2 separate regions of the Homo sapiens genome follow, and region 1 is linked to region 2. The links come from fine-mapping of genetic effects on gene expression. Tissue or cell type: visceral fat. Region 2 holds a variant in brackets; the other region holds the start of a gene. All regions are shown on one strand. Distances are from middle to middle.

Region 1 (8,168 bases), 42 kb before region 2:
TCTCAGCAAACTAACATAGGAACAGAAAACCAAACACTACATATTCTCACTCATAAGTGGGAGTCGAACAATGAGAACACTTGGACACGGGGAGGGGAACATCACACACTGGGGCCTGTTGGGGGTTGTGGGGCAAGCAGATGGAGAGCATTACGACAAATACCTAATGCATGTGGGGCATAAAACCTAGATGATGGGTTGATGGGTGCAGCAAACCACCATGGCACAAGTATACCTATGTAACAAACCTGCACGATCTGCACATATATCCCACAACTTAAAGTATAATTAAAAAAAAAAAAAGCCTTAGGCTTAATATCATTAGAGCTTGAGGCAAATTTCAAGAACTACTATCTTTGTTTATTTATTTAATTATGGAAACTAGCTTCAGACATCAGCAGAGATGATATCCTAAGACACAGGAGAGCGGGGGAGCTGCAGGGAGCTCCAGAGAAGCCTGTCTCCATGTGTGTTTAAATCTTTCTTCCCCCTGTCTTTCTCTGTATTCTTCCTTCTCCTCTTCCTTCCTTTCTTTACTGCAGTCTTTTCCTTAATTAGCCTTCATAGAGAACCAGCTGCCTTTAAAATCATTGTTTACCTATATTGAACAGTTTAATATATGATTATTTAACAACCATCAATCATTGTTTATCTATATTGAATAGTTTCACGTCCAGAATGGAATGAATTGACTTCTACATATGCGGTCCTTTAATGATTTCTTAAGGACCAGTAGCCCTCTGCAAAACTTTAAAAGCCTCTCCTAGAGCAAGGCGATTGTGCCATTCTTCATCCTCTGCTGGCTAGCCGTGTTGCCACCCACTTCTGCCTGCTAAACGGCTCCTTTCCTCAATCCCTGCCTGAGTGCTACTTCCTTCAGGAGGACTTTCTTTTGCACTGCTCCATCCTACCCTATAACTAGATGTGATCGCTTCTTGCCACAAATTCCAATCATATTCAGTCCAGTTTTGTGACACTTATAGTAATCTGGCTTGTATTTGTGTACCTGTTTTATTCTTCAAATAGGTTATGGCCTCCTAAAGGCAGGATCAAAGTCTTACTGAGTACTTTGCAGCTATCATGCCTTATAATTAAGAGTTGCAAGGGCCGAGTGCAGTGGCTCAAGCCTGTAATCCCAGCACTTTGGGAGGCTGAGGCAGGCGGATCACGAGGTCAGGAGATCGAGACCATCCTGGCTAACACAGTGAAACCCTGTCTCTACTAAAAATACAAAAGATTAGCCGGGCGTGGTGGCGGGTGCCTGTAGTCACAGCTACTCCAGAGGCTGAGGCAGGAGAATGGCGTGAACCTGGGAGGCGGAGCTTGCAGTGAGCCAAGATTGCTCCACTGCACTCCTGCCTGGGCGACAGAGCCAGACTCCGTCTCAATAAATAAATAAATAAGAGTTGCTGAGTACTTATTAATCAAATTCTTTTCTTTTTTTACAGACAGGGTCTTGCTCTGTTGCCCAGGCTGGAGCACAGTGGCATGATAATGGCTCACTGAAGTCTTGACTTTCTGGGCTCAAGCAATCCTCCTGCCTCAGCCTCCTGAGTAGCTGGGACTATAGGCACACACCACCACACCCAGCTAATTTTTTTATTTTTATTTTTTGTAGTATCCAGGTCTTGCTATGTTGCCCAGGCTGGTCTTGAACTCCTGGGCTGAAGCAATCCTCCTGCTGTGGCCTCCAAAATTGTTGGGATTACAGGCGTGAGCCACCGCACCTGGTGTTATTAATCAAATTCTGTAAGTTGAGTAACTATAGCCTTCTTTGCGTCACTTACGTGATACTTCAATTATTCAAATGCAGTGTAGATTTTACAGAGTTGTAAAGGTATAAACTACTCATTAAAAATAAAATATTTAGCTGAGCCGGTGGCCTGCACCTGTAATGCCAGTTACTCAGGGGGAGGATCGCTTGAGCCCAGGAGTTCAAGGGCAGCCTGGGCAACATAGTGAGACCCAGTGTCTAAAAAATAAAATAAAATATTTTTATCTGGGCATGGTGGCATGTGCCCGTACTCCCAGCTCCTTGGGAGGCTGAGGTTGGAGATGGCTTGAGCCCAGAAGTTGGAAGGTGTAGTGCCCAGAAGTTGGAAGGTGTAGTGCCCAGTGATAGTGCCTGTGTATAGCCACTGCACTCCAGCCTGGGCAACACTGCCAGACCCCTCTCTGCTCTTTTTTTTTTTTTTTTTGACGGAGTCTCGCTCTGTCGCCCAGGCTGCAGTGCAGTGGCAAGATCTCGGCTCACTGCAAGCTCCACCTCCCGGGTTCACGCCATTCTCCTGCCTCAGCCTCCCGAGTAGCTGGGACTACAGGCGCCCACCACCACGCCAGGCTAATTTTTTTGTACTTTTAGTAGAGACGGGGTTTCACCGTGTTAGCCAGGATGGTCTCGATCTCCTGACCTCGTGATCCGCCTGCCTCGGCCTCCCAAAGTGCTGGGATTACAGGCGTGAGCCACCGCGCCCGGCCTGCTCTTTTTTGTTGTTGTTGTTGAGATGGAGTCTTGCTGTCACCCAGGCTGGAGTGCAATGGCGAGATCAGCTCACTGCAACCTCCACTTCCTGGGTTCAAACGATTCTCCTGCCTTAGCCTCCCGAGTAGCTGGGATTACAGGCGCGTGCCACCACGCCTGGCTAATTTTTTATATTTTTAGTAGAGATGGGGTTTCACCATGTTGGCCAGGCTGGTCTCGAACTCCTGAACTCAAGTAATCCGTCCACCTCGGCCTCTCAAAGTTCTGGGACTACAGGCCTGAACCTCCCTCTCTGCTCTTAAAAAATAAATGTTGGCCGGGCGCGGCAGCATTTTTTTTTTTTCAAGATTACAGCGTCAGTAATCCCAGCTACTCGGGAGGCTGAGGTAAGAGGATCGCTAGGACCCTGGGGGCGGAGGTTGCTGAGCCGAAATCGCGCCATTACACTCCAGCTTTGGTGACAGAGCGAGACTGTCTCAAAAAAAAAAAAAAAAAAAAAAAAAATGCTTAGTAACAATACGTTGTAAACGGAAAAAAATCTTATTTTTTACGTTTAGATGCATGAGTACCAACGGTATGAAATCTTCAAATAATGTAACTCAGCGAGCAGTTTAACTACTGACTAGGAAAAAGTTCCCTTCCTTGAAACCACATGGCACACCTCTGGCCTTTCCCGTGCTCCATCCCTCCCTGTGCGGCCACTTCTTTGTGCAGCCAGGCACTGGGCTCTGAGTCTAGGTTGGCGGACTCCTCTCCTCGCCTCGGCATGGAGGTGGCTTCTCTTCCCCAAGCCTTGTGCAACAGGACCCGTCCTTGTGAGGGACCAGATAAACGCCCCATGCTCAAAGTCGCTCACCCTCACCTAGTCCTCACTGCTTCCAATGGTGTGCGGAATAAAAGCGATGAGCCCGAGGAAAGCCATCGTAAACGACTGTGATTGTCTTTAAGAAAGCTTGTGGCAAGATAATAATGTGGTCATTTTACAACAGTAGGAACTACATGCAAAATCGTCTCACTTTTTTCCCCCCCTTTGAAAGTTGAGTTACAATAATTTAAGTTGAAACCATAAAGAACTGCTTCTAAAATGCAAAAAAGACCAAAGATTTCTTCAGTATACCTTCAGTAGTCATTTCGAAGGACGGTAATAATTTACAAGATCCCCGTAGACTTTTCTTTTTTTGGCCATGGTTGGAAGTGGGGTTGACCTTAAAACTTGGTGGTTTCAAGGAACGCTTAAGTGTGAATTAATATGATGTGAAGAAATAATAATAGCCTCATTCTCTTGCAGTCTAATCACAGCCTTTTCCCCAGCCCCAGGGGAGGGAGCCTTTAATAAGGGTCTGTGTAAACTGACGCCCCGGCGGCAGGAGTACGGAGAAGCACTGCTCTGACAAGTTAAGACGCAGGAAACAGCAACCCAAAGAGCAGCCCCCGAAACAAAGTTGCTCAGACAAACAAGCCGATGCAGACGAGCGCCATGGCCCTGCTGGCGCGGATCCTGAGAGCCGGGCTGCGGCCGGCGCCCGAGCGGGGTGGGCTCCTGGGCGGCGGGGCCCCGCGGCGGCCTCAACCCGCGGGCGCACGGCTCCCGGCGGGGGCGCGGGCCGAGGACAAAGGCGCCGGGCGGCCGGGGTCGCCGCCGGGAGGGGGCCGAGCCGAGGGTCCCCGGAGCCTCGCCGCCATGCCGGGGCCGAGGACCCTCGCCAACCTGGCGGAGTTCTTCTGCAGGGACGGCTTCAGCCGCATCCACGAGATCCAGGTAGCGCGCGCCGCCCCGGGAGGGAGCCAGCCCGGGCTGCTGCCCAGAAGGCTGACGGCGCGGGCGGGAGGGCGCCAGGGAGGGGCGCGGGGTTGGGGAGTCCCAGGGAGGGGCGGCGGGCAGGGATCCCCGGGCACTGGGCGCCGCGGTGGGTTGGGGGAGCTGGACTGGGGTTGTCCGGTTAAGGTTCGCAGGAAGGGGCGCTGGGGAGAGGACGCCGGAAAGGCGATCCGGGGTGGAGGAGGCAGGAACCGGGAGCGGGGCGGGGGCGTTGGGGAGGGGTCTTCGGGAAGCGGACCCCGGAGAGGGGCAGCAGGCAGAGGGAGCTGAGGAACGGGGCCAGAAAGGAACGGCTGGGAAGAGGCGGGGGAAATGGGTGTCTCGGGAGGTGGCGGCAGGGAGGGGTCCCCTGGAGGGGCCCCAGCCGGGACCCCTGGGGAGGAGGTAGCGGGGAGGGGAGTCAGGGATGGAGTTTCGGAGAGTGGTAGCCCGAGAGAGGCGGCGGGCAGGGTCTCCAGGGACTGGTCCCGGGGAGGGACCCAGGCAGGGATTGCCTGGTTGGGGAACCTGGGGAGGGGGCGCCGCGAAGGGAAACCAGGAATGGGACTGCGGGGAGGGCACCAGGGCTGAGGTCCCGGAGGAGGAGACTTGGGGAGGGGCAGCGGGCGCCTGGTGGACGCCGCCGGGGCCTGGGAGTGGAGAGCTGGCGGGACCCGCGGAGTTGGGGCTGAGGGGGGCTGCTGCCTGGGGCCGGCCCGAGGGGAGCGCTAGGTTCCCTAGCTCCTCTAGGCTCTGCGGAGCTCGGTGTCCTTAGGTGGCCGAGACCGTGTGTATTCATTTCTAGTCCTTTTTGTATTTTGTAATGGCGGGGGAAGAGGGGACGGAGGCTCGGAGGCTCGGGGTGCCGTAGGCTCTAAGCCGGAGTTGGGGGCGACACCTGGAGTTCGCGCCGGGACTGGAGGCAGGGACGTGGGAGGAACCCAGGGGTCCCAGCCACCCGCTAGGGCGTTGGGGCCGGCGAATTCCGCACGCTTCCCACTTGGAGCCTGAGTGCTGTCCTTCCCACGCCCACCTCCGTTGCGCCCTTCGTGGCAGGGGCACTGCACCCGAGCCGCGGCGGCGCCCTCCGATGCCTTCGCCCATCGTCCGCCTCCCCGGGTGCCCGGCCCAGCACGCACTGTTATTTCTGGTATGGGGGCTTTTGGTGTCTTCCGAGAACGCCCCCTTCTCCTCCCACCCAGGCCTGTCCTTCTGCCCAGAGTTCCGGTCTTTCGAGACCCTTCTCCATCGAAGCCTCTTCTAACTACCCACCTGGGCTTCAGTCATTCATTCGTTCCATCAGCCATTCAGTCAATGAACGTGAGGGAGAAGCCCCAACCCTCATTAATGGAAAAACGGGCGTGCGAGGAGCAATTTTAATTCGGCCGGGAATTAAAATTTAATTTAATTTTAATGCCAGGAAGTCCCAACCGTCCCTCCTCAAGTCCGCCACGCCAACCCTATACAGTTCCAAACCGCCACCCCCACCCCAATGCTTAGAGGGCTCAAAAATGATTTTCTTTGTAGGATCTGATAAGATATCAGGATGGCAACTTTCAAATACAGTAAAAAGTGTTTTGTTATTTGCTGTTGATGGGTTCAATACAGCCTGCTTTCTGAAGTGTAATTTAATTTTTCTTTTATCCGCCCCTACTGCCATCTGCTTTTATCCTCATACCTCACCCAGAGTTTGTTCCATGGGCACAGGTTTCTTTGAGACGGACCGTGTTAAAGCCTGTATCCAGTCAGGATGTGTGGCAGTTCAGATGGGTATTTTCCATTCACCCGCCCCTGCCGCCAGCCCTCACCCTGAGCTCAGCCCCTCCTGCCCACTGCTCAGACAGCTTCCTTCACCACACCCAGGGCCCTGGGGCACGGAGCAGAGAGTCACAACTGACTCACTTGCTGCCTTCTCACCAAGCGCACACAGGACCTGGAGAGTAAAAGAAATAAAGGAAAAAGTTCTTTCCCTTTACTCTCCAGGTGGCACTACCCCAACCCTCAAATATGGTACTTGTGGGGACTCTCACCTTCCTGCAGCCCCTCTGAGGACTCCCAATTTCGAACACATGGTTCTAGAAAAACCCTCTCTTCCCGCTCTCCAGGTTGCTCATTGTTCTGTGGCCCATCACATCCAGTTCACTTGCGCTCCCCTTGCAATCACAGAATGTTAGCTAAACAAGGGCTCTTAGTGTTCACCTACATAGCTCACCTCTCATTTTACAGATGGAAAGAGTTGGGTGGTTACCTAAGCGACTTGCCTAAGGTCAGGCAGCTGGTGATTGGCAGAGTAGAAATCATAATTTGGGTCACTAGATGCTATTTAGGGTGTGGTAGAGCAGCAGGATGGCCGAAACAGGAGTCATGTCCTCCAATGCTGGCCCTCTGCAGCCACCTGTGGAGCCTTGGGCTAGTCACTCATTCTCTCTGCACCTCAGTTTTCTCATCCGTAAAGGAGATTAGCAATCGCCATTCCTCTCATGGGTTATGATAAGGTCAAATGAGCTTAGTGTTATGAAACTGTAATAATAACAAATAATAACGATCAGTATTTCTAGAACTCTTTTCATGTGCCAGGCACAGTTTCAAGTCTTACGTGAAACTTATTTCTCCATTTTTTGGGTGAGGAAACTGAGGCATAGTGGGACCTAACTTCCAAAGGTTATTCAGCTAGTAAACTGTGAGCCCAGATTCAAACTCCAGAGTCTGTGCTCTTAACATCCAAGCAAACTCTAAGTACTGTGCCTGACTGTATAGTTCCATGGCCCACCACCAGAAAGTGATGAAAACTATCTGTATCATTTCTACCTCCAGTTCCCTTGTGCTGATTGTACCCAATTCAGTAGCTGGATTTGCTTGAGGAGTGGCCCATTTCCCAGTAGTTCTTGTTACCAGTCATTCCTTCAGTGGGCCCCTTTAGAGACCTGAACTCTTTGGGGGCCACTTATTTGTTAGGCAGAAGTGACCCCTTGGAGATGGACTCATTCCAGTTTAGTCTGAATGTCTTCATTTTCAGGTCTCCAGAAGGAGTGAGTATAAGAGTAGAGAAATGACAGTGCTCCTGGCCCACTGTTTCTGAGATTGAGAGCTGGAGTGGTGAGAAAGCTGGGCAGATACCAAAGAGAGTCTTAGTAACTTTCCCCAGCCCAGCCCTGTCTGTGTCATGCTGAGCCATGTTAGAGGCTCATCACTTTTGTGTTTTAACTGAATAATTTAGTCTATTTACATTTATTGTGATTTCTTTTTATGCAGGGAGTAACAGCTTTCTTAAGATATAATTAACATATCATATAATTCATCCATTTGAAGTATACAACCATCACCGCAGTCAACTTGTAGAACATTTTCATGACCTCAAAAAGAAATCCCATATCCATCAGCTATCACCCCCAACTCTCCTATTCCCCCTGCTTTAAGCAACCACCAAGCTACTTTCTGTATCTATAGATTGGCCTATTCTGGACATGTCATAAGTGGAATCATGTAATATGTGGTCTTTTATGGGTGGTTTCTTTCACTTTAAACATTTCAGTATAATGTTTTTAAGGTTCACTCATGTTGTAGCATGTATCAGTACCTCATTCTTTTTATGGACAAATAATATTGCAGCGTATGACTATACCACATTTTGCTTATCCATTCATCAGTTCATAGACATTTGGATTGTTTCCACCTTTTAGCCGTAATGAATAATGCTGCTGTGAATTTTTGTGTGTAAGGTTTTGTGTAGACATGTGTTTTCATTTCTCTTGGATATGTATCTAGGAGTGGAACTGTTGGGTCAAATAGTAATTCTATATTTAACCTTTTGAAGAACTGCCAGACTGTTTTCCAGAGTATCTGCACCATTTTACATCCCCACCATTATCATAAGAGGGTTCTGATTTT
Region 2 (8,192 bases):
CACAGTGGCACCATCTTGGCTCACTGCAGCCTCTGCCTCCCAGGTTCCAGTGATTCTCCTGCCTTAGCCTCCCCGCATAGCTGGAATTAAAGGTGTGTGCCACCAAGCCCAGCTAATTTTTGTATTTTTAGTAGAGACAGGGTTTTACCACATTGGCCAGGCTGGTCTCAAACTCCTGATTTCATGTGGTCCGCCCACCTCTGCCTCCCAAAGTGCTGGGATTACATGTGCGAGCCACTGCACCCAGGCTCAATACATCTTAGGTCACTTCCTGGAAAGAAAAAGTTCTCCAGTGACTTTTAGCCACTGCCACACTCTCATTTAATAATGAAAACATGCAGTCCTGTGTAAAGAAAACTTTGCTTAAAGCTGAGCATCTCTCCTCCCTCAGCTCAGGGCGGTGGAGGCTGGATGCCAGCAGGGCTGGGTGCCGTTGACCTCTCTGTTTCCTGCCTTGCCCTACCCCACTCCCACCCTAGGCTCTCAGGCTCCTCTGGTTTGGAGCTGGGGGAGGAAGAGGAGTTGGGGTGGGACAGGAGCCACTTGACTGATGCCTCGGAGACTTGGCCTGAGCCTCTTCAGCCTGGGCAGACACAGATGCAAAATGGACCCTCCCTCCTGGGGGTTCTTTCTCAGGGCTTTTCCCAAACAGGGAGTCTCCAACCAAACTTACCAAGAAACGGGCAGTGCCTCTCCACCAGGCAGCTTCTTATGACTGCCGGTCAGCCTTGGGCATCCAGGGTCCACTTCTGCTTGGGAGCTAGGCCCCTCCAAGTGCTCCTCCAGGGCAGAACCTAAAACCCTCCCGCTGACTCCCTTGTGTCCCACACTCTCCCCACCAAAGATTGGTGATTGGAAATGGGAGGTCTGGTCACCAGTCTTTCCTAGTCATTTACAGAACAAGAACAATGAAGAGAGAGTGGTACTATAATCTAAGCATCAGAATTGCAAACAGGCAGTGTGACTCAGTCTCGGGGCTCAACTTCTCCCTTGGCATAATACATTTAGAGGGTCCTAAAATTTTATTTTCTTTTGCAATATAAATAGTGTCATACTGTATCATTCCACAACTTGCTCCCTCAATCATTTTAAGTGATTTATTCATGTTGCTACAAGTGAATCTGCTTCTTTAATTTTAACTCTTCACAATATTTCTTGATATTAATATAGCACTATTTACTTACCCATATTCTTGGAAGAAGCCTTTTTAACTAACACTTCCTTTTATTATAACTACTATTATTTTTATTATACTTGTATAGAGGAAAACTTCAAACAACCACAAAAATAGAATAATGAACCACAATGTATCCAACCTCAAAATTTTTAACACCTCATTTCCAGTCCAGTTTCATTTCATCACATCAGTATATATCTCTAAAACATATGGATTCTTTTTTTAAAAAAAAACACGTAATACCATAAAAATAGCTAAAAATTTATCAATGATGCATTATAATTTTCAAATATCCAATCAGCATTCAAATTTTCAATTGTCTCATAAATATAAATTTTGAAGTAGTGTGAATCTATTCAAATAATGTTTATTCCTTGAGATGGACTGATTTGTCTCTTAAGTATCTTTTAAGGTTCTCCCTCTCTCCCTCTCTTCCTGTGTCTTTCTTAAATTTTTTTCTTGCAGTTTATTTCTTGAAGAAACTGAATTGTTTTTCCTGCAGAATTTCCCACAATCTGAATGTTGCTGATCTCGTTCCTGTGGTATCATTTAGCATGTTCTTCTATCCCCTGTTTTTCCTGCATATTTGTAGTTAGATCTAGAGGTTACCCTCATTCTAAAATAATTTAGTTGAGTATAGAACTCCATATTAGTGGTTATTTTCTCCCGGCACTTTGAAGATATTATTCTGTTGTCTTTAGACTTTGGTTATTGCTATTGAGAAGTCTGAGGTCATTCTATTCTCACTCTGTAGGCAATTTATCATTTCTGTCTGGCTGTCCTTGCTCTTGGTCTTGAAGTTCTCCTATTTCATAAATTTTAATTATTTTACTTACAGCTCATAGAAAAACCTCCCTGAATTAGAAGATGCATATCCTTCATCAATTCTGGAAAATTCTCAGCCATTTTTTTCTTGAGTATTGCTTTTCTCTGTTGTCTTCATTTACTCATTTAGGAGTTTCTAGTAAACTGGAACTGGATCTTCTGTCTTCATTCTCTGATTTTTATCTTTTCTTTCAAACTTTTCACCTATTTATGTCTCTTGAGTGGCATTCTGGGAAATTTCTTCAATCTAGTTTCCAGTTCACTATTGCTCTTTTCAGCTATATTTAATCTGCTACTAAACATGTCCATCATTTCAATAATTGTTGTTTTCAATTCTATAAACACTATTTGGTTCATTTTCAAACAAGCCTGGTCTTTATCTTAACAATGTCTTGCTCCTGTATCATCCCTTGACTCCTTTTATCGAACGACTGTAAGCATACTTATTTTATAATCCACCTCTGTGTGTTTTGTTGTTTGGAGTTCCCAGGAGTTGAGTTCTTTGGTGCACTGTTGCTTGGACTGTTGCTCACCATGGCTTGTTTCCTCATTTGCTTTGTGGTTTTGGGGCATGCGTCTCTGTTGGTGGAGCTTTACTTGTAGAACATGTGCAGCCCAGACTGAGGGTATGTTCCTCAAAGGAGCTTTGGATTTGCTCTTGCCAGACACCCCAGGGGTGTTAACAGCTTGAAATTGCTATTTTCTTATTATTTCTCAACAGTGGGATTCCTTGACAATGCTTTCAGGCAGGCCTGAGGCTGTGCATTCTCATGGAAACATTTTGAGACAATCTGAGACAGACATAGTCTTTTGTGGCCACTTTTGGTCAATGAACAGATTTTTATTTATTCTCCGAAAGTATAGCCCTTTGATGATCCTCTTTGTGGGGTGGCCTTGTTTCTAACTCCCCTCCTCTGGGCCTGGGCCACATTGCTTGCCTTCATGGTTAGTGAAAACAAGCCCTTTGGAAACTGCTAGCCTCCCCATCCAAGGCAGCCAAAGTGTCAGCCACACTTATACGTTTTTGATTTTCAGTTTTTTCTCGGTGGTAGGTAGAGTAATGCCCCCTGCCCCAAAGATGCCCACATCCTAGTCTCCAGAACCTGAGAATACGCTAGATGGCATGCAAATTGCAGATAAAATTACCATTGCTAATCATTTGATTTAAGATGGAATGATTGCCCTGGATTATCAGAGTGGGCCCAGTGTCATCACAAAGTTTCGTACAAGTGAAAGAGAGAGGCACAAGAGAGTCAGAGGAGATCTGATGACAGAAGAATGGCCAGAGATGCACCGCTGCAGACTCTGGAGATGGAGGAAGGGGCCACAAGCCAAGGAATGTCAGTGGCCCCTAGAAGTGGAAAAAGCTATGGAAATGGATTTTCCCTTAGGGAATGCAGCCCAGTGAGACCTGCGTCAGATGTCTGACCTCCAGAGCTGTAAGATAGTAAATTTGCGTTATCTCAAGCCACTAAGATTATGGTGATTTTTAAATGGCAGGATAGAAAAATAACACACTCTCTAACATATTTGGCCTTCAGTCTTTTTACTTTTCTGTGGACTCGTGCATGCATTTAGAGGGACACATACTTTATCCAGCATGTCTAGGTGTTTTGTAGTGGGAGATTTTAATACCTCAGTCTACCGTATTGCTGCAAACAGAAGCTGTGCCTTAATTTTAGAAAGATGCCTAATATCTTTCATTCTCAGGCTTTTTGTTTGTTTGGGTCCTTCTGTTGTGTTCCTCTTTCTCAATCCACTAATAGTTTTCATCATGAAGTATAAAGAATGAGGGGAAGAAGGACCCCAA[T/C]GTCTCACACGAGACACCTTTTGGGACAAACGTAGATTTAGGCAATGAAGCTTGGATAGGAATGATCTTGATGGGCCAGGTGTGGTGGCTCACGCCTGTAATCCCAGCACTTTGGGAGGCCGAGGCAGGTGGATCATCTGAGGTCAGGAGTTCAAGACCATCTTGCCCAACATGGCAAAACCCCATCTCTACTGAAAATATAAAAATTAGCCCGGTGTGGTGGCATGTACCTGTAGTCCCAGCTACTCAGGAGGCTGAAGCAGGAGAATCACTTGAACCCAAGAGGTGGAGGTTGCAGTGAGCAGAGATCGCGCCATTGCACTCCAGCCTGAGTGACAGAGTGAGAATCTGTCTCAAAAAAAATAAAAAAATAAAAAAATTAATAAAGGAATGATCTTGATGGGTCCCGGGATCTGTGCAGCCCACAAGGACCCTGCCCCAAAGCACCACACTGTGTGTCTCTTGGGATGAAACACAGCAGAGGAGGAGATATTTTAGTCACTGCCAAATGCTTTGTTTTATATACAGGCTCTGATTTATAATTTAGCTCTTATATAATAAACACTTTCCAATAGAACTATACTTAGAACCGCACTGGCTTGTTTCATCTCGGTCTCTCTGCCGAGGGCCCAGATCTGCTGTGGCCAATGCGTGGATGTGGACAGTGGATCAGGAGGCTCCGCAGAGAGGGCTGCACCATCAAGAGAGCCCTGTCAGCCTCAGGACGGTGTGGCACCACCACCGCGATACGCCAGGGACGTGGCGTGGGTTTTAAATGTCAGCTATGTGGTAGGCAATTGTGTTGATAGCACCACATGTGGATTTCTAAATTACAGACTTAGTGAAAACCTAGGATCACCATGTCACTTCCAGAGTGTCTCCTGGTCCCCTCAAGTCTGAGTCATGAATGTCGTACGTGGGATTGGAGCAGCCACGGCAAGTGGGCACCCTCCAGGGACCCCCAAAGACTTCTGAAATTGCCTTCTGTGTGGGGGGGAAATGTGGCCAGAATGTATTTCGCTTATAGCCAAGCTTTTAAAAAGAAAGCAACAGCAACAAAGTGTGTGGGCTTTTAGTAGACATAGAGAGAAGGAGAAGTAACACCCTGTCAGGATGTGGAAGCCATTTCCATCAATAGATGATTCCAGAGGCGCACGGCGGGGGGTGGGGGGGTTCCCTGAGGAGACAACACCCAGCAGCTCTGCCTCTGGAGGCCGTGTGGAGAGCACGGGGAGCACCATCCCAGCATCTGCACTGTGGGCACAGGAGGCTGCTGGAACCAGAGACCCGGATCTGCCCTTGTTATTGTCCCGAACGTCGCTGCTGGACTGTGCATCCCCAGATGCTTCATTCCCTCACCCTGCCTGAAGCTCCCAAAATGAGTAGCAGGACACGTGGAGTCCTCTGGGCTTCTGATGCAGACAGACAGGGCCGGCGTCCGTCCAGTCCTCCATGCTGTCTAGCGCTTGGCTTTGGCAAGCACTCCAGGGCCCTGAGGTCTTTCCTTAAAGACCAGGGATAGCCACAGCCATTCTGCTTGATAAGGATTGGATGTGCTCATGGACACACGGCCTCTGGCACATAGCTGGGCCTCCGTAAAGGGTGCCTCTCTGCGTATCTGCCTCACACTGTTGATGAAGCAGCCTGCCGCAAAGTGACCGCCCAGCCCTATTGCAGTGCATTTAATCCGAGGGTGGGGAAATGGTTTCAGTTCTGAGCCCCAGTTTAGTGGGGTTCCAGGAAGTCATCAGGGAAGCGAGGACTGGAATCATGTGCCCATGAAGGATTGCACCATTACAGAAGGGAGTGCAGATTGGGGAAAATGCAACAGAAGCGGAAATGAAGTCCAGGTCACAGTGGGGACACATGTGGCATGGTGTGCAGGCTTGGGTGTAAATCCTGGCTTCCTCGCTGACAAGCGGCAGGACTTTCTCAAGCGGCTGGACCTCGGTGCCCCAGGCTCTCCAGCTGATGACTACACCGACCTTACACCGACCTCTTGGAGTTGTCCTGGGGTGGTGCCTGGCCCATGGGAAGAACGTTGGGCCTGTTTGCACCACCACTCTCTCTGAGCTGGCTTCCCTCCCTCCTCCCCATCTACACATCTTTTCTCTATCTCAGAGCCTCTGCCGACTGAGCCTCCTCCGACACAGCTCCTTTCTTTCCGTGCTTCTTCCCTTATGCTCCTGACTGCTCCCCGGGGCTTCTGTCTCCGCCTCCTCTCAGCTGTGTTGGAGCCGCTCAGCTCTGCCCCTACCCGGCCGTGTGCTGGCACTGGTTCATGCCACGCTGGCTTGAGGGAGCTGATGGTTCTGTTTTAAGCGAGCATTGAAACAGTCGTGGCAGGACTGTTTACACGATGGAAATCAGTAAGCACTGTTTCGGTGACGTCTGGGCCACACTTCACAGGTTAAGGACACAGTCCCCGTAAGACTGTCTTCCTACAGACTCCAGCCACAAGTTTGGTGGCAGGTCACCCTTGGGTGGCTACAAATTCAGGAATCGGGGTTTGGTAATTTACTGGATAATTTACTGGAATGACTCAGGGAACTCAAGAAAGCACGATGCTTAGGATTACAGTTTTATTATAAACACAAAGATACAAGTCAGAACCAGCCGAAGGGAAAGATGCATGAGTGAGGCCTGGGAGTGTCCCAAACACGAAGCTTCCGTCATTCCCAGACACGACTGTCTTCCCGCACATTGTGTGTGACGGTGCACAGAGTGCTGTCGCCCAGGGAAACTCACCGGAGCTGTGACGTCTGGAGTTCTTACTGGGTTTCATTATGTAGGCGTGGTTGATCGGATCACAGCTCACGGGACTTCATTTCGAGCCCCTCTCCCTTAGCCCGGGTCAGGCTGACATCTCAAAGCCCCAACCCTCTCCTTACACGGTTGGTCTTTCTGGCCTGGTGGCCCCCCATCCTGAGTTACCTTGCTAGCATAAACCATGGGCTGTAGCTCAAGGATCCACCATGAATAATAAGGGTTTAGAGGCAACCTCCCAGGACCTAGGGACAAGGACCAGCCAAACTGTCAATTACACAGCTACGAATCAGCGTCCACTGCCCCTCCCCTGTGTTTCCATTCCTGTCTCCGAGAGCAGGCCCCGGACAGGCCAGACTCATCTTTTCCTAGCATGCAGCATCACGAACTCTAACAAGCCTCTGGCCAGGTGCCACCCCGCCCAAGCTGCTGGAGAAAAATTCACCCTTTGCCTCTCCTCCCATGGGACCTGCCCTTCTCTTCTGCTCCCCTACCCCGCATTTAGTGACCTGAATCTCTGGCTTTCTATTTGTCCTTGCCAAATGTTATCTTTGCTGGTTTTAGCCTGTTCTTCCTCCTGTTGGATCATTTTTATATCCTGGATTTGTTAACTCAGACATGGAATGACTGCATCGTGCTGTTCACAGTTTTGGCAACTGCAGTTCCCATGTTTATGTAAGTCATTTGCAAGACCCTCCGTAATCAGTTGCTACAGCCCTCCCAGCCTCTGGACAGGGGTTTGAGCCTGTTGTTAATACATTGTCCCTACACTTCACTGCTCTCAGCCCTCCTCCTTGCCGAGTCTCCCAGGCCTCACACGTGCCTAGAGGATGTCTCCAGGGTTACTGCTCCCAGACCACGTGTGCAGGCCCCACCCACTGGCAGCTCCCACAGCCCAGGGCATCCCTGCCTTGCACAGTGAGACCTGTCGTCTCTGCCTTAGACGGAGCTCGGTGGAGCTCTCCTGGGTTTGGTGCAGAAGCAAAAAGGAGGCTCCTCTTTCCCACCCTGAGTCTATCTTGTCTCCTCACCCCCTGTCCTTGAAAGGAAGGCGTAGACACCTTTCCTCCTCTCCACCTCTGCCCTAGGGACTTGCACACACTTTTCCTCAAGAGCCTTCTCTGGGGACTTCTCTGGCTGCACTTGCCCACCGCCTTTAGTTTCGGACAACCACAGCTGAGGAGTGCCGCCTTTTGCTGGGGCTTGCTGTGTCCCAGGGACATTTTCCTCCTTTCTGTCTCTCAGTCTTCACCACAGCTCCCTGAAATACTGTTTTTACCCCCTGTTTTTAGATAAGAAAACAGAGGCTTGGAGATAGTAAAAGCTCACTCAAAACCGTCATGAGCATACATCACAGGTCTAGGTTTGCATCCAAGCGGTCCACACATTCAACAGGTGTTTAGTGAACACCTATTGTATGCTGTCTGCCTCTGGAGCCCTCGTGCCTTCTACACCACCTGCCGCCTCTCATGCTGCTGAGGACCCAGGACTGGTGGGAGTGCCAGGTGGGAATGGGAGGGGGTGGGTGGGTGCCAGGGCTCTAGTAGGGGCACAGGGTGGGGGGGCGCTCACTCCTCCTGTCCCCCACTAGATGGGGCTGCTTGGTTGGACATC

Direction of the effects. Positions count from the first base shown, and alleles are read on the strand shown. Sizes are in standard deviations (SD) of each study's normalised expression.
As copies of C replace T in region 2, the expression in visceral fat of the gene that starts at base 3,931 in region 1 goes down (small effect, 0.25 SD a copy in GTEx).

Evidence for each region. PIP is the estimated chance that this variant, and not a neighbour inherited with it, causes the effect.
Region 1: it holds the start of CYP27C1, and the variant in region 2 is fine-mapped to the expression of CYP27C1 in visceral fat (GTEx, PIP above 0.99).

The regions. Positions count from the first base shown.
Region 1 is chr2:127,216,062-127,224,229 of GRCh38, reverse strand. CYP27C1 (cytochrome P450 family 27 subfamily C member 1) reads left to right here and starts at 3,931. Exons shown (of 9, transcript NM_001367502.1): 1 at 3,931-4,241. The coding sequence starts at 3,960.
Region 2 is chr2:127,174,360-127,182,551 of GRCh38, reverse strand. No RefSeq gene overlaps it. Among named protein-coding and RNA genes, the nearest start is that of CYP27C1, 42 kb to the left of the region's middle. The variant T/C (reference allele first, on the strand shown) is at 3,813.